Linked DNA regions of Homo sapiens: region 1 is linked to region 2. A link means that fine-mapping ties the variant in region 2 to the expression of a gene that starts in the linked region. Tissue or cell type: whole blood. Region 2 holds a variant in brackets; the other region holds the start of a gene. All regions are shown on one strand. Distances are between the middles of the regions.

Region 1 (2,500 bases), 100 kb before region 2:
AAAATGAGCTTCAGTTACGTTCCCTAACTCGGTCCACGTTCCTTTAGAACGTCTCAAGCCCGCATGTCACTCATCGCGGAGTCGCAGCCTTCCCCTGGGTTCGGGCGTCTGCGTTAAGCGCCGGCACATCGTGGGGATCCCCGCGTGAGATTTCTCTGCGCCGTCGGAATAGACTGTTCACGGATTCGCGTTAGGATTCCTTATGCTGCAGAACTTCAAAGAAATAAATGTATCAGAATTGCGATGTTTAAGTTCTAATCTATTTAAGCGGGTGGGTCAGCAGAGGGTCAACAGGAAACTTCAAGGTAAATAGTGGCCTCTGGAAAAGGCCCGGTCGCTCACGGCTTCCCCACTGTCTCCCCAGAGCAGACTATTAATTCTTGCGTTTCAGGCAGAACTGCCGCTGCCGGCCCTGCAGCAGAGCTAGGGAGCGGGCAGGGCAGAAACCCAGCCGAGCAAGCTGCAGGCTCGAGTCCCCGCGGGCGGAGAGGCTCGGGCTGGAGCCTCCGGGGCGGTGAGGAGGGGACTCACCGCACTGAGCACAAACTGCTTTCCCCGGGAGCGCCTGCACCCAAAACCCTCCAGTTCGAGGAATGGGATTAAAAGTGACAAAGAAAGGGGAAGGGGGGCTCCGTGGAGACTTCTGGAGGCGTGGAAGGGGCGTCCCCGAGGAGGGGCGACGCAGCCCTGCAGGGTGCTGGGCGGGCGGGGTGAAGGGGGCTGGGGGGCGCCTGGGCCAGGGCTGGTGGGGGCAGACGGCCGCCTGCCCGTGCTGGCACTGGGGCGAGGGGTCCCGCGCCCCCGGAGGGAGGGAGGGAGGGAGGGAAGGAGGGAAGGAGGTCGGCCCCCGAGGGCGGTGGCGGGGGCGCGAGCTGCGGTCCTGCGCTCCGCCCCGCGCGGGTAGCCGGCCGCGCCTCCCCCTGCCGCATGTGCGCGGTGTTGTGTGCCCTGCCCTGCTCCTCCCCCTCCCCTCCCCTCCCCTCCCCTCCCCTCCCGCCGTCCCCTCCCCCAGCGGCCCCGAGCGAGCGCCAGCGCCACACAGCCCCGGGCAGCCGCCGGCGAGCGCGCCGCGACGCCGAACAGGTGGCCGGAGGCTGCGGGCGCCGCGGCGGGGAGAGGCGAGGCAAGCCCCGGGCGAAGCGAGGCGAGGCGAGGGCGGCCGGGCCGGGCATGCGAGCTGAGCGGCCCCCCGGCGTCGCCGCCGCCTGCCCGCGCCCCTAGCCGCCCGCGCGCCCGAGTCCCCAGCGGCTCCTCCGCGCCCAGCGTCCTCGGTCCCGGCCTCGGCTGCTCCGGCTGCGCTCGGCGAGGGGCGCGGGCCCGCCCGCGGCGGCGGCGGCATGAAAGTGACCGTGTGCTTCGGACGGACCCGGGTGGTCGTGCCGTGCGGGGACGGCCACATGAAAGTTTTCAGCCTCATCCAGCAGGCGGTGACCCGCTACCGGAAGGCCATCGCCAAGGTGAGGGGCCGGGGGCGCGGGCGGGGAGGGGGCGGCGGCGGGGACGGCGCCGGGATCAATATGGCGCTTCCTGGAAGGGGGAGGAGAGGCGCAGGGAGGCGGGGAAAGGGAAAGTGCGGCCGGTCGGGCCTCGCGGGCGCCCCCCGCCCCGGACTGCGGGCGCCAAAGTTCTCTGCGCGGGCCGGGGCGCAGCCTCTGGGACACCCAGCCGGGTCCCGCGGCCCCCGCCCTCACCCTCCGCCCGGGAGCTCCGGCCTCGGTAGCGCGGGGCGAGCCGGGCAGCGGCGCATAGGCCGGCCCTGGGCGCCTCCCCGGAGTCTGCAGACCCAGCCAAGCCCCGAGCCAGCGCGCGGGGGGCGCAGGCCGGGAAATCCAGCCCCAGGCCTTTCCCGGCTCCCAGGCCCCGGGGGCACAGGCCGGGGACTGGGAACTTTTGGTGTGAGGAGAGTTTCGTGACTGCCCTTCCGACAGAGGCGGGTTGCGAGCCTTCTGCCTCCTCTCCCTTACTCGGGCGGGGGCGGAACAGCGGCGGGGGGCTTTTCCTCCATGTCCCCTGCTGGTAGGGGCCGGCAGGGGCGGCCCGTCGCGTCCGGGGGCTGCAGGGTTTGGGGAGTCGCCGGCTTGGGGTCGGGGAGGCGTTCCCGGGAGGGCCACCGCTGGCACTTGGCACTCGCTTGCGAGCATTTACTGAGCTGATCCCACTTGCTGGGCTCTGGAAAGCACAACCTTGGAAGAGTCGCGGAATGAAAAGTTTTCCTGCGAGGACCTCAGCTCCTACCTATCCCGGGCTGGTTCCATGTGGCTGGGCTGCGGGGCCGGGCCTGACTTGGGAGTTGAGTGGATTTCCCTTTTTCCTGGTGGACTGATAACATTGTCTCCACTTCACAGCATTCCTCTACTGTGTGTCAGAAGTGAAAAGGCGTTTTGTTAAATTGTTTTACCGACTGTGTCTGTGTTTGACAACAGCCCACGCTGAAGTTTCTCCCAAGCACCCGGGGATATATTTCCTTTGTAGTAGAGTCCTCTTTGGTGGGGAGCGCATT
Region 2 (2,757 bases):
TGGGACACACTAGTTATGCAACACAGTGCTTTGTTTGTTCTATGCTAAAAAAAGCTGAAGATGGCCCCTGCCTTTGGAGACCTTATCTAGAGTAAAAAAATTACCATGCATATACAGGAAATAGGCTATTAAGTGACAAATGTGTTCTAGGTAAATATTTATTTATTTTGAGACAGAGTCTCGCCCTGTGCCCAGGCTGGAGTGCAGTGGCACCGTCTTGGCTCACTGCAGCCTTCACCTCCTGGGTTCAAGGGATTCTTCTGCCTCAGCCTCCCGAGTAGCTGGGATTACAGATGCCCATCACCACGCCCAGCTAGCTTTTTGTATTTTTAGTAGAGGTGGGGTTTCACCATGTTGGCCAGGCTGGTATCAAACTCCTGACCTCAAGTGATCCACCCGTCTTGGCCTCCCAAAGTGCTGGGATTATAGGTGTGAGCCACTGCACCTGGCCTAGGTAAATACTTCAGAGTTGGAGCACATTTCATGGAGGGGGAGTTTTTGTTTTTACTTTTTTTTAGGGGTTTGGGTGTGTTACCCAGGCTGGAGTGTGGCAATGCAATCTTAGTTCATCAGCTGCCTTGAATTTTTGGGCTCAAGTGATCCTCCTGCCTCAGTCTCCGGAATACCTGGGACTACAGGTGTGCACCGTGACACCTGGCTAATTTTTAATTGCTTTATAGAGATGGAGTCTTGCTATGTTGACCAGGCTGGTCTTGAATTCCTGGCATCGAGTGATGCTCCTGCCCTGGCTTCCTGGAGTGCTGAGGTTATGCGTGCCAGTTACTGTGTCCGGCCAAGGGGATGGTTTATAAACTGGATTTGGGAAGATACATACAATTTGGGTAGTTGGAACTCTGGGGGTGAAAGCTTTGCAGATATGTGGAAGAGAATAAACAAAAACATAAGGGTCTCTTCACTTGACCAGTATTTATTGAGCATCTTCTCTGTCTCAGACACTGTTTTGGGTGCTTGGGGTTTATCAGTGAACAGAACAATTGAACATCGAAATACGGTGAGGCAACGCTGAGGCTGGTCACAAACCGGCTTGGGATGAGCTTTGAGTGCTTGGCCAAGAACACTGGATTTTGACTTTTAGAAAGTAGTGAGTCATTGGAAATGACTCATATTACAGGACAGTCACATGATAAAGGGAATATTTTGTGAAGATAAATGTAGCAAGATGTGGCACAGGATTGAAGAGATGGGGTCTAGAAGTGAATTGGACAGTCATTTTATTGGGAACAGGAGAGGAAGAGATGGGAAAGAAAGAAATGTATTCACTAGTTATTTAAGAGGATAAATATTTAAAACTGCAC[G/A]TATATATTTATTATGGAATGCCAGGAAATATAGACAAGCACTGCCAGTTGTGCATAGCAGTTCTTTTGTCTATGGCTGTAGATAATACATTCTTCAAACTAGGGATGAAACAAAGTCTTATGTAACAGTCGGTGAACAACATTGTGAATTGCTCTGTTGTGTTTAATTGATTGAATGTGTTCAACCTGTTTCCTGTTTTTACGTGTATAGCTAGTTCCCATTCTCTATTGTTATATATTAAAATATCCCATTTAATATATGCATCTTGGCTATGTATCTTCCTCCACATTTTAAATTTCTGGATCAATGGGTATATTTCATTTTAAGCATTTTGATGCGTGGTACCAAATTCTAGCTCCCTGTCCCCCCGCCTCTCCAAAAATGTGTGCAAAATACTCAGGCGCAGTGTGTGAGAATGCTGGCTTCCTGTATTCTCATGAACCCTGGGTCATTAAATTTGTTTAAAATTAATTTGGTTTCCCAATTTGTTATGAAAAACTCAAATAGTAGCTGAGAGAATCATACAAAGCACAGCTGTGTCAGTTGACCTCTGGTTGGGTTTGGCCAGTGGGAGGTTTGGTGGGAGATAGGAGGCCCCGGGATGACATAGCCCCAAAGTAGTTCCCTTCTCCCTCTCTGTTTTGGGCTGTGTCTCTGCAGCAAACAAGTCTCTCCCCAAATTCCAGCTCCTGCCCCTGAGTCCTCCATGGCTCCCACTTCCGCCACCCTGGGCTCTGGTGCTACCTCCCCTTATCCCCTCAGCCCAGGGGTAGTCATAGCTTCCTGCTACTGCTAACCTGTGTGTGGCCCCCGCCTCCACCACCATCCTGGTTTAGAGTCACGACTCTTCTTACAAATCTTTGTACCAGTTCCTTGTATTAACTTCCCTCTCTTTAAAATACTTGAGATGATTTGCATTTTCCTGTTCGCACTCCTAATAATACATATTTATTCCTGCGTGTGTGTATACAGGTGGAGCATCTGTTATCTGAAAATATGAAATGCTCCCAAATTGGAACTTTTTGAGCCCTGACATGATACCACAAGTGGAAAATTCCACACATAAGTACTTAACACAAACTTGGACTTAATACAAACTTGGTTTCGTGTAAAAAATTATTTAAAATATTGTATAAAATTACCTTCTGGTTATGTGTATAAGGCATATTTGAAACATAAATGACTTTTTTTGTTTAAATTTGGGTCCCATCTTCGAGAAATCTCATGTGCATGTAAATATTCCAAAATCTGAAAAAAATGGAAATCTGAAACACTTTTGGTCCCAAGCATTTTGGGTTAGGGGTTCTCACCTGTATGTTTATATGTATATGTACATGTGCACATGTACATATATGTGTACGTGTGTATTTTTTTGCACTATTTGCAGACATGGCACTTTAAATACTTCAGAACACAACTCCTTAGAATAAGGGTGTTTCC

Evidence for each region. PIP is the estimated chance that this variant, and not a neighbour inherited with it, causes the effect.
Region 1: it holds the start of PARD3, and the variant in region 2 is fine-mapped to the expression of PARD3 in whole blood (TOPMed, PIP above 0.99).

What each region holds. Positions count from the first base shown.
Region 1 is chr10:34,813,833-34,816,332 of GRCh38, reverse strand. It overlaps PARD3 (par-3 family cell polarity regulator), which reads left to right and starts at 1,037. Exons shown (of 25, transcript NM_001184785.2): 1 at 1,037-1,457. The coding sequence starts at 1,338. It overlaps PARD3-DT (PARD3 divergent transcript), which reads right to left and starts at 565. Exons shown (of 2, transcript NR_108043.1): 1 at 532-565; 2 at 1-213. RefSeq lists silencers at 689-738, 829-998, 1,519-1,798.
Region 2 is chr10:34,708,932-34,711,688 of GRCh38, reverse strand. The region is part of intron 1 of PARD3 (par-3 family cell polarity regulator); the gene reads left to right. Among named protein-coding and RNA genes, the nearest start is that of PARD3, 100 kb to the left of the region's middle. The variant G/A (reference allele first, on the strand shown) is at 1,317.